Linked DNA regions of Homo sapiens: region 1 is linked to region 2. Evidence: fine-mapped expression QTL. Tissue or cell type: monocytes after interferon gamma. Region 2 holds a variant in brackets; the other region holds the start of a gene. All regions are shown on one strand. Distances are from middle to middle. Region 1 holds the start of SLC39A1 (solute carrier family 39 member 1). Region 2 holds the start of RAB13 (RAB13, member RAS oncogene family).

What was found.
Region 1: SLC39A1 starts here. The variant in region 2 is fine-mapped to the expression of SLC39A1 in monocytes after interferon gamma (Fairfax 2014, PIP 0.95).

What each region holds. Positions count from the first base shown.
Region 1 is chr1:153,957,191-153,968,274 of GRCh38, reverse strand. It overlaps SLC39A1 (solute carrier family 39 member 1), which reads left to right and starts at 4,738. Exons shown (of 4, transcript NM_001271958.2): 1 at 4,738-4,780; 2 at 5,528-5,746; 3 at 5,925-6,055; 4 at 7,521-9,165. The coding sequence starts at 5,560. The coding sequence ends at 8,177. It overlaps MIR6737 (microRNA 6737), which reads left to right and starts at 5,855; the gene lies at 5,855-5,924. CRTC2 (CREB regulated transcription coactivator 2) reads left to right here and starts at 9,663. Exons shown (of 14, transcript NM_181715.3): 1 at 9,663-9,930. The coding sequence starts at 9,778. CREB3L4 (cAMP responsive element binding protein 3 like 4) reads right to left here and starts at 373. Exons shown (of 10, transcript NM_001255978.2): 1 at 111-373. RefSeq lists enhancers at 4,362-4,641, 4,682-4,851, 5,002-5,061, 3,951-5,150, 5,102-5,171 and 9 more and silencers at 115-616, 9,884-10,033.
Region 2 is chr1:153,979,247-153,990,330 of GRCh38, reverse strand. RAB13 (RAB13, member RAS oncogene family) reads left to right here and starts at 3,992. Exons shown (of 8, transcript NM_002870.5): 1 at 3,992-4,218; 2 at 5,550-5,610; 3 at 6,750-6,810; 4 at 7,035-7,112; 5 at 7,523-7,612; 6 at 7,731-7,796; 7 at 7,887-7,940; 8 at 8,155-8,681. The coding sequence starts at 4,095. The coding sequence ends at 8,232. RefSeq lists a silencer at 3,908-4,077 and enhancers at 3,889-4,390, 4,704-4,933. The variant TG/G (reference allele first, on the strand shown) is at 6,153.

The DNA of each region.
Region 1 (11,084 bases), 22 kb after region 2:
GCCCGTTGACCTCCCCAAACACTACACCTTTTCTTTCTTCCAGGATCTCGTATCCTGGACCTGCCAGCCAAACCCCGCCCCCAGCCTTACACTACAAAAGTGGATGCCACCTTGCCAGGAGCCACGGTAGGGCCGCTGTATCTGGGAGTAGGGGACTAAGAGTCTGAGGGTCCACAAACGGAATTTAAGAAGTAGGTAGCCGCGCCCTTTCTGCTGCAGTTTTCTCTTAGCTATAGTAAATCTTCCTGAGGGTTTGGTGTCTCCTAGCTGAAGAACAGAAAAGGCTGTGACTGGAGCACAGGACTCCTGAATGCCTGTTCTGTAGCCCTCGCTTTTGCAAGAGGGAGATCATGGCAGGGTTGTAAACAAAGGCGGAAAGAGTCAAGAGACCTGCGAATTTACTAGGGCATCCCCTCGCCCACCGCGTGGCGCTCTTCCCAAAGCTGAGTCCTGATTGGAAGCTGAAGACTTAGGTTTCGGAGGGGCAGGACATCGAGCCAATGGCACACTACCCTCTCAAGGCCGCCTCTTCCGTAACTGGTCGGAGACAGTTTGGCTGTTCAGGAGAGTCAGGCCAATGGGGCCGCAGTTCTTTCTTTTTTTTTTCTTTATTCTTATTTTTGGAGACAGGGTCTCGCTCTGTTGCCCAGGCTGGAGTGCGGTGGTGCGATCACGGTTCCATGCAGCCCCCGACCTCCCGGGCTCAGGTGATTCTCCCGCCTCAGCACCGCGAGCAGCTAGGACCACAGGCGCGAGCCACTGCGTCCGGCCGGCGGGACTTATTTGTCAGGCGGGGATTGGGTTCCGCCAGCCTAAAGGGAGGGGTAAGCGCCAGAATATGAATCGCCGGGAAGCTGGGAGAAAGCTCCGGGAAACCCTGAGCAGCCAGGTTTGTCTTCGCGCGCCACGTGACTCGGAAGCTCCGGTTTCACCCAGGCGGGGAGTCAACAGCCCGCTGACCCCAGTGGAGCGGTGATCCTCGCTCGGCAGGCGGCAGGAGCGCGATGGCGGGTTTCCCCGTCCGCAAGCCGAGCAGTGTGGCGTTAATGGAGAACAGCAGCTGTGCGCACACGCTCGCTGCACGCTGCTCATTCACGGAGGGACACGGGGCAGGAAAACTGCAACAAGTTAAAAAGCCTTTTGCGTTTGTTGTCTTATTGTTTGCATACAGTTACCGGGAACATTATGTCCCACACTTGTATAATTTACAAAACGTTTTCATAAAAATTGTTCTCTTCCTTAATCCATAACAGTTCTGAGGCACACACGGCGGGTAATATTTTGCAAATTTTACCTATGAGGAGGCAGATCCATGACTAGAAAGTAGTAATACCAAAACTCAGGGTTGATTGATTATTTTTATTTTTTTGCCTTGGTCTAATGTCTGATGGTCCAGGAATTCACTTCAAGTAAAACAATGGAGGTAAACTGATACAGGTATGGTTTTCAGTAGTATTTCAGAAAAGGGTAGCTGGGTGAGTAAAACAGTAGTTTGGAGTGTGAATCCCAGAACTCAAACTGCTACTAATTATCCTTATGAAGATTTGAACGGGCTAAGGGTAAAAACGGGAACAGGGTCTAGTCAGGCATTTCCATGTTACTCATATAATTCTTACAGCAGATGGAGCTGACAAGTTTGTTTGTTTGTTTTTCTTTTGCTCTGTGGCCCAGGCTGGAGTGCAGAGGCTCGATCTCGGCTCACTGCAAGCTCCGCCTCCCGGGTTCACGCCATTCTCCTGCCTCAGCCTCCCTAGTAGCTGGGACTACAGGCGCCCAGCTAATTTTTTTGTATTTTTAGTAGAGACAGGGTTTCACCGTGTTAGCCAGGGTGGTCTCGATCTGACCTCGTGATCCGTCCACCTCGGCCTCCCAATGTGCTGGGATTACAGGCGTGAGCCACCACGCCCGTCCGAGCTGACAAGTTTAAGTAACTTTCTCAAGGTTACCCTGTAAGTAGCTGAACCAAGATTTGGATGCTTCAGCCCATGTTCTTCACACTATCAACCCACCTTGTGGGGCTTTCTCAGATTTCTTATCTGTCTTTCCCGCTCATATCTCTCCATCCTGCTCAAGTAGTGAAGAGACAAAGCAGCCTTCCTAGATTGATGCAGAGCTCCAAGGAAAGCAAAGCTGTTCTTGTTGAGATCATTCTGAGAGCGAGAAAGGTGGTTAAATACATTTCAAAGGGCTTCCTGCGGGCTGTATGTGCAGAGATGATTTGAGTGGGGAATGTAGTTAGCTTCCGTTGATGTTAGAACTGGAAGGACCCTCTGCAGTCATCTGCTTGTTTAACTTCCTCCTTGCCCCTGATTTATCAAACTCTGGTGAGGAAAACTGACTTGCCTAAAATCATACATCAAGGTAAGGTAAAATTGAGGAGATCTATTGGGCCGGGTGTGGTGGCTCACACCTGCAGTCCCAGCACTTTGGGAGGCTGAAGCGGGTGGATCACCTGAGGTCAGGAGTTCAAGACCAGCCTGGTCAACATGGTGAAATCCCGTCTCTACTAAAAATACAAAAATTAGCCGGGCGTGGTGGCGGGCGCCTGTAATCCCAGCTACTCGGGAGGCCGAGGCGGGAGAATTGCTTGAAACCTGGGAGGCAGAAGTTGTAGTGAGCCAAGAGCATGCCACTGCATTCCAGCCTGGGCAACACAGCAAGACTCTGTCAAGAAAGAAAGGAGGAAAGAAGAAAGGAAGGAAGGAAGGAAAAAGAAAAGAAATAAAGTTGCCAAGAGATTTTAAATGTTCTCATCACAAATAAATATGTGAAGTAATGCATATGTTAATTAGCTTGATTTACCCATTCTGCAATGTACATATATTTCTTTTCTTTTTTCTTTTTTTTTGAGACGGAGTCTCGCTGTGTCGTCCAGGCTGGAGTGCAGAGGTGTGATCTTGGCTCACTGCAACCTCCGCCTCCCCGGTTCAAGCGATTCTCCTGCCTCAGCCTCCTGAGTAGCTGGGATCATAGGCATGCGCCACCACGCCTGGCTAATTTTTGTATTTTTAGTAGAGACAGGGTTTCACCATGTTGAGCAGGCTGGTCTCCAACTCCTGACCTCGTCATCTGCCCGCCTCGGCTTCCCAAAGTGCTGGGATTACAGGCGTGAGCCACCGCGCCCGGCCCAATGTACATATATTTCAAAACATCATGTTGTACACCATAAATATATACAATTATTAATCATATATGACATATGTATGTGTATAAATAAACAAATATATATATTTGACAACTATAAAGGTAGAACTTGGACCAGAATCCAGGTTTCCTGACCCCCCCAGTCATAATTCCTTGTTAATGTTACCAATTACGAATAATTTTTTTTTTTGAGACGAAGTTTCGCTGTTGTTGCCCAGGCTGGAGCGCAATGGCGCGATCTCGGCTCACTGCAATTTCCGGCTCCCGGGTTCAAGCGATTCTCCTGCCTCGGCCTCCCGAGTAGCTGGGATTACAGGCCCCCGCCACCACGCCCGGCTAATTTTTGTATATTTAGTAGAGACGGGGTTTCACCATGTTGACCAGGCTGGTCTTGAACTTCTGTCCTCAGGTGATTCATCCTCGGCCTTCCAAAGTGCTTGGATTACAGGCGTGAACCACCGCGCCCGGCCCCTTAAGAAGTCTTCACATTCCTCTTTTACTTAAGGAATTACTGGGCTTCGTTTCTGGAGCCTTGTGAGAAGCATTACACTGTCCCCCCTTTTTTTTTTCTTTTTTAAAATTAATTTTCCTGTAGGAAGCAAGATCCCATCTGTCCCTTCTTTAGGCAATGAAGCTTTTTTCACCTTTGCATAAAAGAACAGCTGAGCCCCCTTTTTAAATTTTCTTTTGTCTTACCGTCCCTTGAGGCTAGAAGAGGATTCTCAAGGCACAGAGTTGTGGGCCACAAGAATCCAGGTTGAGGAAACGGTGAAAGTCCTGAGCTGAAACAACTACCTTGGGGCATTCAAGGAACAGCAAACAGCAAACCGACCGGCGAGGGTGGCGGGAGCTGGGCTGGAAATCAGGTGGGAGAACCGGCCAGACGCCCGCAGGCGCGGTACGCAGATATCCTGGAATGCGCTGGGGGCTCTTCCCTGGGCGCGGCTTCAGCACCCCGCATTCCGGTCCCACCACGTCCCCACCCACCTGGAGAAGGCGGAGGCTGCACTGAGTGCCATAAGTAGTCGAGAAGGGATGATTTTCAAGACATACCCTCTCTTTGCTTTCCCCCCTTTCCAATTCTGCCTTGTCTTTTTCCTTGTTGTGGGTGCTGGTGAGGGAAAGCAGTCAAGGAAGTTGGTCCCAAGAGGGGAATGCTTTCCCTTGGGCGCCAAGAGGCACTGACGAGGTGTCAGAGCCTTCTGAGGGACAGATGAGACTTTGGCCCAAGGCCAGGAAGATGTTTTCAGATGTGGGCCGGAAGACTTGACAATGCGGGGTCTCCCTCTTTTAAAAATATCCATATAATCAAAGCCTTTGTTGACTGGCCCGCTCCGGCCCCTCAGTCCTCCACAGATGCGCCCCAGGGCCCCAGCCCCGAGGTCCTTTTCCTAATATCCGCTCTTGCTCTCGCTCACTCTCCTCAGGTCGCCTGCTCCGCCCGCTCCCGCTCCCGATCTCTGATTGCTCCTAACTGACGTCACTCCCGGTCTGTCCCCGCCCACTCGGTGCTGCCATTGGCAGTCGGTCGTGGGTACGCGGCTCCTGTGGGGGAGGGGGGAGCTATGGGAGGGGGCGGGAATTCCCGACTCTAGGCCGGAAGCGCGCGGAGACCATGTAGTGAGACCCTCGCGAGGTGAGTGCGGGCTGTCTGGCAGCGGGGTCCATGTCGGCTGCCCAGGCCTCCCCGGGCCCGGGAACAGGAGTCCCAGCTCACGCATTCTTCATCTGCTTCCCGCGACGCTTGGCGGCCTCGCACCCCGCCTCCTGGAGCCCGGACTTTCAGGCACCGCCCTCAGTGTCGCCTCAGTCCGTCCCGGGACCGCAGACTCTTAGGGCCCCTCTCTTTGGCCATCTGCCTCTAGGTCCCATCCTGGGGCCTGAAGCGCTTGTTCTCTGCGCTGGGAAAAGGGGAACGATGGAGCGATCCAGCACCCAAACTTACCCTGTCCAGGTGGCCCACGAAGCTACCCAAGACATCTCTGCACAGCCCTAGCCTTTTTGGCTTCACCCACTCCGTTCGGGAGTTGGGGACCCGGCCTCTACATTCCTTAGGGGAACTCCAGCTCCAGGTCCTATTTGGAGGCGGCTCCTAGTTTCCTAGTTTTCTGGGGGCACCAGGTGAAAGGGTGATGAGATATCCATACAGCCTTTCTCATGCCTCGGTTTCCCCCGTGCAGTCTCCCTGAATAAGTCACTTGGGAAAGAAAGTGTGAGAAGAGAGGAATGTTCCTGGTACAGGAGTAGATGAGTCACCCTGGGTAGGGGAAGGTCACAAAGTGGCTGGGGCCAGGGAGCTGCACTCTGCTGACCAAGCTTCCCCATTCCTTGCCCCATCTTCCTTTGCATGATTTTTCCCAACCACTCTGGTCTGTCTTCCTAGGTCTGAGAGTCACTGGAGCTACCAGAAGCATCATGGGGCCCTGGGGAGAGCCAGAGCTCCTGGTGTGGCGCCCCGAGGCGGTAGCTTCAGAGCCTCCAGTGCCTGTGGGGCTGGAGGTGAAGTTGGGGGCCCTGGTGCTGCTGCTGGTGCTCACCCTCCTCTGCAGCCTGGTGCCCATCTGTGTGCTGCGCCGGCCAGGAGCTAACCATGAAGGCTCAGGTAAGCCTCTCCTTTTCCCCACACTGCTATGAATGCTTGGCTTAGGGAGGGCTCTGGGGCTGGCGGGGAGTGACCAAAGGAGGAGGGAAAGGCAAGGGTAGCCATTGTTTGGGTTGGGGTGGTCGGCCCTGGAGGGGGTTTGTTTGCTTATTCCCCTCTGTGCTTCACCCCTACCCAGCTTCCCGCCAGAAAGCCCTGAGCCTAGTAAGCTGTTTCGCGGGGGGCGTCTTTTTGGCCACTTGTCTCCTGGACCTGCTGCCTGACTACCTGGCTGCCATAGATGAGGCCCTGGCAGCCTTGCACGTGACGGTGAGCACTGGCCTGGGCATGTGACTTGCGGGAGGGGAATCACACACCTCTGGGAGTGTTGGTTTGTGGAGATTGATTCATGTGCCACTCCATGACTGTGTGGAAGACTTTTGGCATGTGGTATGAATTGTGATTTTTGGTTATGGGGCATAATTCTTTCTATGTGTTCCCTCCCCCTTCCCCATTCCCTGTGTGACCCCTACATTCCCGTTGAGACAGTAAGACACTTTTTCTCAGGTGTGTGACTTGCTCTATGGGTTCTCAGTTCTAGCTACCAGCAAGTGCTCCAAGAATCATCTTCACTCTCTCACCACTTTCCTAAAGGGCTGGAGATAGAGGTCTCTGTAGGCCTGAGAAGGATAGGAAGCGATTCCCTGGGTCTTGGTGTTGCTAACCTTTTTAGGCTTTGGCCCAAGGAAGTGGGCTGTGAGGAATGATCAAGTCCACGGCATAGGACTTGGTTTATTATAGGAAAAACTGAGGCCGTTGGATAGTGGGGCAGGAAAGTCATCCTGGGCTCTTTCCTTTTTTCCTCTAAAACTGAGGAAGTAACACTGGATGTATCCCTTTGTGTGTCTGTGACTGAGTGACCTGTGTTTCCGTGTGACTGCGTATAAGCCTGAATGTCCTGTGATATGTGGCTCTATGTATGAGTATTTGGGGAGATGGGCAATGTGTGACCTTTTCATGTATGTCTACATCAGTGACTCTCAACTAGGAGTGTGGCTTTGCCCCTCAGGAAACATTTGGTAATGTCTGGGGATATTTTTAGTTGTCACAATGGGGAGGGGGATGGAGGGAACATTGTGCCTGCTATTGGCATCTGGTAAGTAGAGATCAGAAATGCTGTTAAACAATCTACAGTGCACAAGACAGCTCCCATGACAAAGAATTATCTGGCCCAAAATGTTTTTGTTTGTTTGTTTTTGTTTTGTTTTGTTTTTGAGAAAGAGTCTTGCTCTGTTGCCCAGGCTGGAGTGCAGTGGCACAATCTCGACTCACTGCAATCTCTGGCTCCTGGGTTCAAGTGATTCTCCTGGCTCAGACTCCTGAGTAGCTGGGATTACAGGCATCCACCACCACACCCTGCCAATTTTTGTATTTTTAGTAGAGACAGGGTTTCACCATGTTGGCCAGGCTGGTCTCAAACTCCTGACCTCAAGTGATCTTCCCACTTTGGTCTTCCAAAGTGCTGGGATTATAGGCATGAGCCACTGCCCCTGGCCCCAAAATGTTAATAGTTCCAAAGCTGAGAAACTTTGGTCTACACGTAACACTGTGAGTGACACCATAATCTGTGTGTACGTATCATTCTGTGTCAGTGTTACCAATTCACTCTATCTTTGTGTGACTGAGAGTAGCCCTGTGTCTGTGTCAGACCCTAGGTCTGTGTAACTGGGCTTTCACCAGATTTTGCATCTCACTCTTCCTTCCCTGAACATTTTGCTGCTGCTTCTGCCCACAGCTCCAGTTCCCACTGCAAGAGTTCATCCTGGCCATGGGCTTCTTCCTGGTCCTGGTGATGGAGCAGATCACACTGGCTTACAAGGAGCAGTCAGGGCCGTCACCTCTGGAGGAAACAAGGGCTCTGCTGGGAACAGTGAATGGTGGGCCGCAGCATTGGCATGATGGGCCAGGGGTCCCACAGGCGAGTGGAGCCCCAGCAACCCCCTCAGCCTTGCGTGCCTGTGTACTGGTGTTCTCCCTGGCCCTCCACTCCGTGTTCGAGGGGCTGGCGGTAGGGCTGCAGCGAGACCGGGCTCGGGCCATGGAGCTGTGCCTGGCTTTGCTGCTCCACAAGGGCATCCTGGCTGTCAGCCTGTCCCTGCGGCTGTTGCAGAGCCACCTTAGGGCACAGGTGGTGGCTGGCTGTGGGATCCTCTTCTCATGCATGACACCTCTAGGCATCGGGCTGGGTGCAGCTCTGGCAGAGTCGGCAGGACCTCTGCACCAGCTGGCCCAGTCTGTGCTAGAGGGCATGGCAGCTGGCACCTTTCTCTATATCACCTTTCTGGAAATCCTGCCCCAGGAGCTGGCCAGTTCTGAGCAAAGGATCCTCAAGGTCATTCTGCTCCTAGCAGGCTTTGCCCTGCTCACTGGCCTGCTCTTCATCCAAATCTAGGGGGCTTCAAGAGAGGGGCAGGGGAGATTGATGATCAGGTGCCCCTGTTCTCCCTTCCCTCCCCCAGTTGTGGGGAATAGGAAGGAAAGGGGAAGGGAAATACTGAGGACCAAAAAGTTCTCTGGGAGCTAAAGATAGAGCCTTTGGGGCTATCTGACTAATGAGAGGGAAGTGGGCAGACAAGAGGCTGGCCCCAGTCCCAAGGAACAAGAGATGGTCAAGTCGCTAGAGACATATCAGGGGACATTAGGATTGGGGAAGACACTTGACTGCTAGAATCAGAGGTTGGACACTATACATAAGGACAGGCTCACATGGGAGGCTGGAGGTGGGTACCCAGCTGCTGTGGAACGGGTATGGACAGGTCATAAACCTAGAGTCAGTGTCCTGTTGGTCCTAGCCCATTTCAGCACCCTGCCACTTGGAGTGGACCCCTCCTACTCTTCTTAGCGCCTACCCTCATACCTATCTCCCTCCTCCCATCTCCTAGGGGACTGGCGCCAAATGGTCTCTCCCTGCCAATTTTGGTATCTTCTCTGGCCTCTCCAGTCCTGCTTACTCCTCTATTTTTAAAGTGCCAAACAAATCCCCTTCCTCTTTCTCAAAGCACAGTAATGTGGCACTGAGCCCTACCCAGCACCTCAGTGAAGGGGGCCTGCTTGCTCTTTATTTTGGTCCCGGATCCTGGGGTGGGGCAGAAATATTTTCTGGGCTGGGGTAGGAGGAAGGTTGTTGCAGCCATCTACTGCTGCTGTACCCTAGGAATATGGGGACATGGACATGGTGTCCCATGCCCAGATGATAAACACTGAGCTGCCAAAACATTTTTTTAAATACACCCGAGGAGCCCAAGGGGGAAGGGCAATGCCTACCCCCAGCGTTATTTTTGGGGAGGGAGGGCTGTGCATAGGGACATATTCTTTAGAATCTATTTTATTAACTGACCTGTTTTGGGACCTGTTACCCAAATAAAAGATGTTTCTAGACATCTGTACAGTATCTGATTCGTTTGTTTTGGGAAAGGGGTGGGCATGTGGCCAGCCTGAGAGGGCCTGAGTCCCAGATGTTTACAGCTGTTTTAAGATTCTTGGTCTCACTGTTTTCACTCAGGACCCGATAGTCCCCTTCCCTGAAGATGACCTAATTTTTCCTCCTTTGTGTCTTGGTACTTCTTTCCCGGTCTCCACCCCTCGGCTTCCCTTCTCTTCCCTCCCCTCCCTCTTCCTTTCTTCTCTCTTCAATCCCTCTCTCCTTTCCGTTCGTAGTCTCAGGGCTAATTTAGAACTACTCTTCCCAGCTTGCACCTCTCAGGGAGTAGCCGAGAGGGTGGAGCCAAGTCCCCAGTTTCCGGAGTCAGCAGGGCTGCTGGGAAGTGGAGTCCGTTTCCTCCTAGTGCTGCGTGACTGGGGATGTGAAGGAGTCTCGTAAACAAACTACAATTCCCGGCGGCCCCCGCGCGCAACAGGTCAGGGCTAGGCTGGGGCCGGGTTCGCGGTGCTCGCTGAGGCGGCGGTGGCTACGGCTGGAGGAGCCGGGCCGAGGCCGCGGCGGAGGCCGCGGCTGGTACTGGGAGGGTGGCAGGGAGGGACGGGGAAGGAAGATGGCGACGTCGGGGGCGAACGGGCCTGGTTCGGCCACGGCCTCGGCTTCCAATCCGCGCAAATTTAGTGAGAAGATTGCGCTGCAGAAGCAGCGTCAGGCCGAGGAGACGGCGGCCTTCGAGGAGGTGATGATGGACATCGGCTCCACCCGGGTGAGGGGCCGCGCCGGGGAGCCGGAGCAGAGCTGAGCAGTTACGGAGCGGAGACCGGAGAGGCGGGGCGGGGGCGGGCGCCGCAGCGAAGGAGGCGGAACAGAGCAGGGGACGCGGGCGCCGCCGTTTGGGAGGCGCAGGTTGAGGGCCGAGGGGCAGGAAGAAGGATTTTGCCGGGGGAGACCGAAACACCGGAGAGGTTCGGGGTGTAGAGGCGACTGGGGGCCGAGTACGTGAGGTGGGAGTGGGCGGAGAGGGGAGATGAAGTCCGGCGGAGGTAGGAGGTGAGTGGTCCTTGTGCATCCCTGACGGAGTCCCCTCGAGGACGCTACTGAAGCATGCCTGGTATTGGGGTATGGCCTGGGAGGAGGGCTGCTTGTCTGTAACCTGGCTCCTCTGAGTTTGTGATCTCCTCCAAACTGGTCCCTCTGCCTTCTGCGCTTTGGTGCCCCCGGGAAAGGGCCCCTTGAGTGGTTTGAACGAGCGGTGCTGTGTATAGTGGGGCAGGAAGTCCCCTCCTGCGTCCCGTCCTTTTGCTTCCTTTTTCAAATACTTCTTGTGGTTTCCTGACGTGAATGAAGGTGAGGTCCATTGCTTGGTGTTTTGTCCTGGCCTCCTTGGAGGAGAGGTAGGGTTTTGAATCCGACAACTGGGTAACCGTCCGACCATAAGTTGTGTGGAACTCTATGGTTTGCTGAGCTTTCTAGGGAGTTGGCTGCTTTGTGGGTTAGTGTGTAGGGTGCCTTGGAGGGTCTTCTATGTGTTGAGAATATTCATTCCTAGGAGTTCTTGAAAGAACTTTCAGGCCTCTGCCAGGCTGCCTCTGAAGCCCCCCTGGCTTGGTTTCTTGCTTTCCAAGGCTGGAGGTCAGAGGGACCAAGGGGTAGGAGTCCGCCTAGGTGGTATGCAGTCTTAATTTAGGGACACATTCTTCTAAAACAACAGTAGGTAAGGATATTGCAATGATTCCTCATGGCAGAGAGCTAGAAGGAATTTAAGGATTGATGGTGGAACATTACTACAACATCTCTAGCCTTTTTCTGCTGGTCTGACTGTGGTTGCATTTATGACTGTGACTCTGGTTGTATTTTTGTGTGTATCCCCCTTGACTCTGTTACTTTTTTTTTTTTCTCGTCCTTTCCCCTTTGAGTCTC
Region 2 (11,084 bases):
ACTTAGGGAGGCCAAGGCGGGTGGATCACCTGAGGTCAGCAGTTCAAGACCAGCCTGGCCAACATAGTGAAACCCCGTCTCTACTAAAAATACGAAAATTAGCCAGGCGTGGTGGCGTGTGCCTGTAATCCCAGCTACTCTGGAGGCTGAGGCAGGAGAATCGCATGAACCTGGGAGGCGGAAGTACAGTGAGCCGAGATCCACTCCAGCCTGGGTGACAGAACAAGACTCTGTCTTAAATAAATAAATAAACAGGGGAGACATGGTTTGGTCAGTGAAAAGAAATAGGGAAGACTCAAGGAGATAATGAGAGGTGAGAGAATGGACAAAAAGAGATTGAATAGTTTAGCTTGAGAAGGGACAAGCATGGACACGGAAGGTGATGGGGATAAGTGAAAGATGCCTTCTTTTTTTTTATTTTTATTTTTATTTTTTTTTTAGACACAGTTTTGCTCTTGTTGCCCAGGCTGTAGTGTGATGGCGCCATCTCGGCTCACCACAACCTCCGCCTCCCGCGTTCAAGCGATTCTCCTGCCTCAGCCTCCCGAGTAGCTGGGATTACAGGCATGCGGCACCATGCCCGGCTAATTTTGTATTTTTAGTAGAGACGGGGTTTCACCATGTTGGCCAAGCTGGTATTGAACTCCCGACCTCACGTGATCCACCTGCCTCGGTCTCCCAAAGTGCTGAGAATACAGGCGTGAGACACCGCGTCCGGCCTTTAATTTTTTATAGGCAGCCAGAATAGGCTCGAGAGAGACTCCCTTGAATAATTTTTTCTTGCCCGGGCGCCGTGGCTCACGCCTGTAATCCCAGCACTTTGGGAGGCCGAGGCGGGTGGATCACGAGGTTAGGAGATCGAGACCATCCTGGCTAGCACGGTGAAACCCCGCCTCTACTAAAAATACAAAAAATTAGCCGGGCGCGGTGGCGGGCGCCTGTAGTCCCAGCTACTCGGGAGGCTGAGACAGGAGAATGGCGTGAACCCGGGAGGCGGAGCTTGCAGTGAGCGGAGATCGCGCCGCTGCACTGCAGCCTGGGCGACAGAGCGAGACTCCGTCTCAAATAATAATAATAATAATAATAATAATTTTTTCTTTGCCGGTCGCGGTGGCTCAGGCCTGTAATCCCAGCACTTTGGGAGGCTGAGGCGGGCGGATCACGTGACGTCGGGAGTTCGAGACCAGCGTGGCCAACATGGTGAAACCCCGTCTCGACTAAAAAAAAAAAAAAAAAAAAAAAATTTAGCTGGGCGTCGTGGCAGGCGCCTGTAATCCCAGCTACTCGGGAAGCTGAGGCTGGAGAATCGCTTGAACCCAAGAGGCGGAGGTTGCAGTGACCAGAGATTGAGCCATTGCACTTCTGCCTGGGTGACGAGCAAAACTTTGTCTCAAAAAATAAAATAAAAGTAAAAACAAAGGTTGGGCGCAGTGGCTCACGCCTGTAATCCCAGGCCTTTGGGAGGCAGAGGTGGGTGGATCACCTGAGGTCGGGAGTTCGAGAGCAGCCTGACCAACATGGAGAAAGCTCGTCTCTACTAAAAATACAAAATTAGCAGGGGGTAGTGCGGGTGTCTGTAATTTCAGCTACTCGCGAGGCTGAGGCAGGAGAATCGCTTGAACCAGGGAGGCGGAAGCTGCGGTTAGCCCAGATCACACCATTGCACCCCAGCCTACGCAACAAGAGCGAAACTCCACCTCAAAATAAACAATAAAAATTAAAAAAATAAAAATAAAAATAGGCCGGGCGCGGTGGCTTACGCCTGTAAACCCAGCACTTTGGGAGGCCAAGGCGGGCAGATCACGAGGTCAGGAGATCAAAACCATCCTGGCTAACACGGTGAAACCCCGTCTCTCCCTAAAATACAAAAAATTAGCCGGGTGGTGGCGGGCGCCTGTAGTCCCAGCTACTCAGGAGGCTGAGGCGGGAGAATGGCGTGAACCCAGGAGGCGGAGCTTGCAGTGAACCGAGATCGCGCCACTGCACCCCAGCCTAGGTCGACAGAGCAAGACTCCGTCTCAAAAAAAAAAAAAAAATAGGGCCAGGCGTGGTGGCTCACGACTGTAATCCCAGCACTTTGGGAGGCCGAGGCGGGCGGATCAGAAGGTCAAGAGATCGAGACCATCTGGCCAACATGGTGAAACCCCATCTCTACTAAAAATACAAAAATTAGCTGGGCGTGGTGTCGGGCACCTGTAATCCCAGAGGATTACAGGTACTCCAGAGGCTGAGGCACAAGAATCGCTTGAATTCGGGAGGCGGAGGTTGCAGTGAGCCGAGATTGCGCCACTGCACTCCAGCCTGGCGACAGAGCAAGACTCTGTCTCAAAAAAATTAATTAATTAATTAAAAAATAAATAAAAAATTTTTTTGAAACAGGATCTTACTCTATCACCGAGGCTGGAGAGCAGTGGCATCATAATCGTGGCTCACTACAGCCTTGGACTCTTGGGCTCAAGTGTTCTGCCCACTTCTGTCCCCCAAGTAGCTGCGGCTGGGACTACAGGCCACACCACCATGTATGGCTAATTTTTTTTTTTTTTTTTTTTTTTTTTTGTCGAAGCAGTCTCACTATGTTGCCCAAGCTGGTCTTGAACTCCTGGGCTTAAGGGATCCTCTCACGTTGGCCTCCCAAAGTGCTGGGATTACAAGTGTGAGCCACCGCAACAGGTCTTAGATAATATTTTCTTTCTTTCGTGTTTCGTATTTTTTTCCACCCCCAGCACACATATAGCAAGAATAATTTTTTTCTAAAGGCAGAGATAAACTTGTTTCTCTTTTACTCTCTTTCTTTCTTTCTTTTTTTTTTTTTTTTGAGACGGAGTCTGGCTCTGTCGCCCAAGCTGGAGTGCAGTGGCGCAATCTCGGCTCACTGCAAGCTCTGCCTCCCGGGTTCACGCCATTCTCCTGCCTCAGCCTCCCAAGTGGCTAGGACTACAGTCGCCTGCCACCACGCCCGGCTAATTTTGTGTGTGTGTGTGTATTTTTAGTAGAGATGGGGTTTCACCATGTTAGCCAGGATGGTCTCGATCTCCTGACCTCGTGATCCGCCCGCCTCGGCCTCCCAAAGTGCTGGGATTACAGGCGTGAGCCACCGCGCCCGGCAAACTTGTTTCTTTATACCCGTGCTGTTCATATTTCAGCTTCCTGGTTACCAAGGCTACACATTCATGGCCTATTGAGTGAGATTTCAGGAGTACTGCACCTTAAGTGGGCCATATTAAAAGATTCACGTAAAGAATGACATTTTTAGTTCAAATCTCTGTTTTCCTAAGCTATTTGGTCAGAGAAATCACACATGGGTCCCCATAAGAGAGATCGTTCCAACTGAAGCCCCAGGATGTGTCTAGGTAGGCTGTGTGTGTTGGGGTGGTGGGGCCGATTCTGTATAACTAATTTACGTTTTCACCCTGTTCCACCAGGGGGCAGACTGACTCAACAAATAACCTACTTCTGCGCATCCCGCTTTTTTCAAAGTGAATTGGGACCCATAGAACTAAGGGCTTGGACAACTAACAGTAAAATTCTAGGACTGCCTTTTACTCAGCCCCAGAAACCGATGATAACTCATCTTCTAGCTTCGTTGAATAGCATCTCCAAAACTCAGCCCCATTTTTTTTTTTCAATTTCTAGTGCTCTCCCTACCTTCACCCTTATTCCCAAAACTCTTGGTTCTCTTCCCCTAATCCCTCTAAAATTTCTCTTCTAAAATTTCTGGTCGTCGTGGTTAAACCTCTACTTCCCTTCACCCCAGCCTCTCTGGCCTCAGAATGGAAGAGTAAGGTCCTAAGAGGGGAGCTACAATTACCGAAAGGCTGTGGAAAATAGCGAGAGAGACAGGCCGGCCTAAGCTAGGAAGGGAAAACCGAGAGAACAGAGGCCGGGCTGGCAGCCTTGGCCTGCTCAAAAGGGTGGGCGGGCAGGGGGTGGAGCCCGGAGGGGTGCCGCCTCTCCTCTTTCCCGGAGCCTGGGCGGAGAGGGAGGAAAACTTCTTCCTGGCCTGGGCTCCGTGCCGCTCTGTTTGCCAACCGTCCAGTCCCGCCTACCAGTGCCGGGCGCTCCCCACCCCTCCCCCGGCTCCCCCGGTGTCCGCCATGGCCAAAGCCTACGACCACCTCTTCAAGTTGCTGCTGATCGGGGACTCGGGGGTGGGCAAGACTTGTCTGATCATTCGCTTTGCAGAGGACAACTTCAACAACACTTACATCTCCACCATCGGTGAGCCCGCTGGCCATGTCCCAGACCCCGACTCTCCTGTGACCTCCTTCTCCGGCTCCCGGATTACTAGTGACCCCACTTTTCAGTCCCCTTAGAGTAAGGCTCCTAAATTCTAGTCCCTCAACCCCTGGCTCTGACCCTTCCCCCGTGCATGTCTCTGTATAGTAACCAAACCTCTCACCTCTCTGAGGCCTTCAGGTAACTCTTCAACTGCTGCCAGCTCCTCATTTTCTTGGTACCATCGCCTTAGTCTCCCCAAATCCACAAGAACTCTTCTCTATTTTTCTCTGTTCCCCTCTTCCCCTACCCCCACCACCTAGAACTCTCTCGATCCTATCTCCATGTTTCCTGTATCCCTGTCCGCCACATCTTTTTCTCCCGATCCGATGCTAGCCTCTTTCTGTCTTGCTGAGCTTCAAACTCTCCCACTGTGTCCCCACCTCACCATCTACTTCCCAGGTTCCCTGCCCCAGTCTCCCTGCACCTCAGCTGAACAAGGGTTTGGGAAGGGTGGAACAAGGTGGCTGGGTGTGCTGGAGGGTGGCCCAAGGACTGTGATCATGAATATGCAGCCAGCTTGGTGAGGAACGTGGAAATGAGGGGACTTTTGGGGTCTCTGAGTCAGCCTGGTGACTCATCCTCCTCCCAGGGGCCCCCAGCAGGCTTGGGGGAGGTGCCCAAGTTTCTACTAAGAAGAACATTGTCTCCCCTCCTCCCTTCTCTTCTTTCTTCATCTCCTCTGGCTTGGGAAATAGACAGGAAGAGTCTCACGACAATTCTGGTTACAAAGGAAAAGGAAAAATGCCCCTCTTTCCTAATTGTCTCAAAAGTAATCCTGTTTAGCCTCAGACTTTCCTAGTGCCAAGTTTGGCCCACTAGTTAATTCACATAGACTGGCTTCAGCTACTTTTTTCCTTACTCTCTACTAGGAGGGTAGGTGGGATACCAAGAGTAGAGGGCTCTAAGAAAACAGAGAAGAGGAATGTGAAAGTAATATCTGGGGGGAGACAGAGACTGAATTCAGAGAGTTGTCAGCTGGTATAACTGAATGGACCCAAGAGGCAGCCTAAGGATTTTAAGCCTCCATGCAGAATTTTCGTCACCTTTTCCCTCCCAAAATCCATAAAATGTACGTAAAAATAGTATTCTTGCTATACAAATACAGCTTTGGGAAAATTCTCCTAGCTTGGCATTTCCAACAAGATTGTTCCCCAAGTGCCTCCCCTGCAGAATTTCTGGTGCCAGCACTGCTCCGTTCCTGTCCCTTCCATCACACAGTTTTACATGTGTGCATGCATGTCTCAACTTCAGTGCATACCTTCCACCCCTAGGAATTGATTTCAAGATCCGCACTGTGGATATAGAGGGGAAGAAGATCAAACTACAAGTCTGGTAAGTCAGTCCTCTGGGATGCCTCGCCAGACTTCCCCATTTACCTCCTACACGTTTTTCCTTCTATTTTGTTTCATTTCTCTTCCTTTCCCCATTGCTCCTTCTAGAAGTGCTAGAAGGAGCACTTCTGGCATTTCTCCGGATGCACTCAGCTGTCCTTCCATCTCTCTTCCTGCTCTCCCAACTAGTTCCAACTCTTTTGTAACTCTTGCCTCCTCTGGCTGCAGAGCATCCTCTTAATTTGACAACAAACAACTGTTCAGTCATAACATGGAAACAGGCTGTGAGCAGTTAAATGGCAAAGGCAGAATTAAGACTTGACTCTAAGTCTAGTGTTTTCTCCAAAATATGGTGAGCCCAGAGAGCCAAATATAGACCCTGAAGGTGTTTAAGTGGTATGAAGCTTAGTGGAGGCATTATGCTATGACATATAAGAGCAGACTGGTGCGCAAATCTGGTTCTTTTAGTTATCTCCTGCCTGACCTTCATTAATTATTCAGCCTATCCAAATCTGTTTCCTCTTTTTTTTTTTTTTTTTTTTT[TG/G]AGACAGAGTTTTGCTCTTGTCACCCAGGCTGGAGTGCAATGGCACAATCTAGGCTCACTTTAACCTCCGCCTCCTGGGTTCAAGTGATTCTCCGACCTCAGCCTCCCAAGTAGCTGGGATTACAGGCGCCCGCCACTAGGCCGGGCTAATTTTTGTATTTTTAGTAGAGACGAGGTTTCACCATGTTGGCCAGGCTGGTCTTGAACTCCTGACCTCAGGTGATCCACCCGCCTCAGCCTCCCAAAGTGTTGGGATTATAGACGCAAGCCACGGCACCTGGCGTGTTTCCTCATTTTTAAAATAGAGACAATAATACATGTCTTACAAGGAAAGAGTAAGGATTAGATAAAATGATACATACACAGTGCTTGACACATAGCAAACATTCAATGAATAAGCAAAGACATCTTGTTTCTTGGGCCACTACCATCTCTGGAAATCAGCTCAACTGTCTTTAATCCCGTTCCCCTTTACTGTTTCCTTATTCTGTTGCCCCACCATGTTACAAAAGCTAAATTCTTGTGAGAGAGGAAGAATTATTCCGTTGGAGAATTCTTCCCTCTATTCCATCCCATGAAAACTTCTCCTTCTTTAGGGACACGGCTGGCCAAGAGCGGTTCAAGACAATAACTACTGCCTACTACCGTGGAGCCATGGTATGAAGTGTGGGTCTGAACAAAGGATGAAGGATGAGGCTACAGAATATATTATGAATACAAAGGGTCAGGGGTTGGGGCAGGTAAAAATGGGAGGGGTGCAGTGTGGGTTGCAGAGGGCCCAACATGGCCTAGTGTTTAGACCCATGGATGCGGGGTCACTTACAGGGCAGTGGGAAGCCTCAATGGGAACATGGTCCAAGGTGAATTTTGTCATCTCCCAGGGCATTATCCTAGTATACGACATCACGGATGAGAAATCTTTCGAGAATATTCAGAACTGGATGAAAAGCATCAAGGAGGTGAGGACCCTCCAAAAGAGATGGGGAAACTGGTTAGAACCTGGAGAATGAAGGGGTCCATCAGGATAGGCAAGACCTAACTTTTTTTTTTTTGAGATGAAGTTTTGCTCTTGTTGCCCGGGCTGGAGTGCAATGGCAGGATCTCGGCTCACTGCAACCTCTGCCTCCCAGGTTCAAACGATTTTCCTGCCTCAGCCTCCCAAGTAGCTGGGATTACAGGCATGCACCACCATGCTCGGCTAATTTTGCATTTTTAGTAGAGACGGGTTTTCTCCATGTTGGTCAGGCTGATCTTGAACTCCTGCATCAGGTGATCCACCCGCCTTGGCCTCCCAAAGTGCTGGGATTACAGGCGTGAGCCACCGCTCCCAGCCGGCAGGACCTAACTTTTACTTGTCTTTTGCCCCCAGAATGCCTCGGCTGGGGTGGAGCGCCTCTTGCTGGGGAACAAATGTGACATGGAGGCCAAGAGGAAGGTGCAGAAGGAGCAGGCCGATAAGGTGAGGGCCAGGCTGAGCAATGTTCTAGAACTGGGCTGGGAGGGCCAAGATAGGTTGCATTGCAGAGGACTTGGCTGCTGTCCTTAATTCAATTCTCTTCCCACTTCACCCCTTATAGTTGGCTCGAGAGCATGGAATCCGATTTTTCGAAACTAGTGCTAAATCCAGTATGAATGTGGATGAGGTGAGATCCACACCCCCATCCCCGACCAAGAGAGGAAGTATTAGAAGGTAGATTCTCCTCCCTCCAAACTGACTCTGTTCCCCACTTTAGGCTTTTAGTTCCCTGGCCCGGGACATCTTGCTCAAGTCAGGAGGCCGGAGATCAGTAAGTTGGTTTTGCTGGACTAGGTACAACTCTGGGGTGTGTGTGTGTGTATGTATGTGTGTGTGTGTGTGTGTGTGTGTGTGTGTGTTGGTGTTGATAAAAACGGGGAGCAATGCTAAGATTTCTCATGAGGGTGGATTTACTTTAAACAGTTTATACCCTCCTACCCTAACCATCCATTCACACCATGACACCTGTGCCCTTCTCCCTCTAGGGAAACGGCAACAAGCCTCCCAGTACTGACCTGAAAACTTGTGACAAGAAGAACACCAACAAGTGCTCCCTGGGCTGAGGACCCTTTCTTGCCTCCCCACCCCGGAAGCTGAACCTGAGGGAGACAACGGCAGAGGGAGTGAGCAGGGGAGAAATAGCAGAGGGGCTTGGAGGGTCACATAGGTAGATGGTAAAGAGAATGAGGAGAAAAAGGAGAAAAGGGAAAAGCAGAAAGGAAAAAAAGGAAGAGAGAGGAAGGGAGAAGGGAGAGGAATGAATTGAGGAAGTGAAAGAAGGCAAGGAGGTAGGAAGAGAGGGAGGAGGAAAGGAAGGAGAGATGCCTCAGGCTTCAGACCTTACCTGGGTTTTCAGGGCAAACATAAATGTAAATACACTGATTTATTCTGTTACTAGATCAGGTTTTAGGGTCCTGCAAAAGGCTAGCTCGGCACTACACTAGGGAATTTGCTCCTGTTCTGTCACTTGTCATGGTCTTTCTTGGTATTAAAGGCCACCATTTGCACAAATGTTCCTGTTTTGGGTAACTTGGATTATTGTCAGAATTGTTCTCCACTCAAATCCAATTATTGTGTCTTCAAAGTGATTGATTTACCCAAATCAGGCTCGGTTTCTGTGGAACCAGGACTAATCCTACTGCTGTCTCTTCCCTAGCTGTTCTGTTGGTAAGGAAAATAGCAAAGAGCAGGAGGTAGAGTGATCTGAAGGTCTGGATATCCTCTTTCCGCCATGGGGTCCGGATGCCCTTGTGGGCAGAGCCTTGTCCTGAGCACAGGAAATTCCCAGCGAGAAGAACTCTAACAGTCCTAGCCTCAGGGAAATAACTGCACCTAGTGATTTATCCAGTGATTTGTGCAAGCTTCTTTGATTCTGCCAGCAATCCATTTAGTTATTTGATAGGCATTAATATCTGCTTTTATTAGTGAGGAAAATGAGAAGTTCATTTATTCATATATGTATATTGAGCATCTACTAAGTGCCAGGCACAATGGTCAGTTATTTTATTTATTTATTCATTTATTTTTAGGGACAGAGTCTTGCTCTGTCTCCGAGGCTGGAGTGCAATAGTGCGATCTCAGCTCACTGCAACCTCTGCCTCCTGCCTCAGCCTCTCAAGTAGCTGGGATTACAGGCGTGAGCCACCATGCCTGGCCAATAGTCAGTTAATATAGCCCTTTGGTGGTACTTACAAGCAGAGGGACAAGGACTTTTTTTCTTTTTTAAGACCGAGTGTGGCTCTGTCGCCCAGACTGGAGTGCAGTGGCACGATCCCAGCTCACTGCAACCTCTGCCTCCCGGGTTCAAGCGATTCTCCTGCCTCAGCCTCCCGAGTAGCTGGGATTACAGGCACGTGCCACCACACCTGGCTAACTTTTGTGTTTTTAGTGGAGACAGGGTTTTGTCATGTTGGCCAGGCTGGTCTTGAACGCCTGGGCTCGAGTGATCAGTCTGCCTCAGTCTCCCAAAGTGCTGGGGTTACAGGCGTGAGCCACTGCGCCCAGCCTGGGACAAGCAAACTTTAACAAAAACAGCTCTTTGGCTGGGCGTGGTGGATCACAACAGGAGTTCAAGACCAGCCTGGCCAGCATAGTGAAACCCCGTCTCTACTAAAAATACAAAAAAAAAAAAAAATTAGACAGGAGTGGTGGAGGGCGCCTGTAGTCCCAGCTACTTGGGAGGCTGAGGCAGGAGACTCACTTGAACCTGGGAGGCAGAGGTTGCAGTGAGTTGAGATCACACCACTGCACTCCAGCCTGGGTGACACAGCCAGACTCTGTCTCAAAAAAACAAAAACGAAAACAAAAACATCTCTTTGCTGAATAACAAAGATGGCAAAACTACTGGAAATGCAAAAGAAAATTCAGGCTTGGGCCGAGCACGTTGTTTCATGCCTGTAGTCCCAGCACTTTGGGAGGCCGAGGTGGGTGGATCACTTCAGGTTGGGAGTTTGAGACCAGCCTGGCCAACATGGCGAAACCCCATCTCTACTAAAAATACAAAAAAAATTAGCTGGGCATGGTGGTGGGTGCCTGTAATACCAGCTACTTGGGAGGCTGAGGGAGGAGAATCGCTTGAACCTAGGAGGCAGAGGTTACTGTGAGCAGAGTTCGCACCATTACACTCCAGCCTGGAGACAGAGCGAAACTCCATCTCAAAAAAAAAAAAAAAATTCAGGCTTGATGCACAGCATCCTTAAGTATATATATATTATATTATATTATATATTACAATGTATAATTATATATATTATATATTAAATATATAGGAAATATATAATATATATAACATGTATATGTTTATAAACATATAACATATTATATATAATATATAATTATATATTATACATATATATTAAATATATATTATAATTATATATTTAATATATAATATATTATGTTTAATATATAATTATATATAATTATATTATGTTTAATATATAATATATAATACATATTTTAATACATAATATATATATATCCCCCTTTCACCATACATAATATTTTTTACACAGCAAAATGTAATAACTTGATAAATGTAAGTATCCAAGCATTGATGAGGTAATGATAAACCTTATTTGTGGCTTATGCTTAAGTTCTTTTTTTTTTCTTTTGAGATGAATTCTTGCTCTTGTTGCCCAGGCTGGAGTACAATGGTGTGATCTCGGCTCACCGCAACCTCTACCTCCCGGGTTCAAGTGATTCTCCTGCCTCAGCCTCACGAGTACCTGGGATTACAGGCATATGGCACCATGCCCAGCTAATTCTGTATTTTTAGTGGAGACGGGGTTTCTCCATGTTGGTCAGGCTGGTCTTGAACTCCCGACCTCAGGTGATCCGCCCACCTCGGCCTCCCAAATTGCTGGGATTACAGGCGTGAGCCACTGCGCCCAGCTGTGTTTGAGTTCTGTAGTAA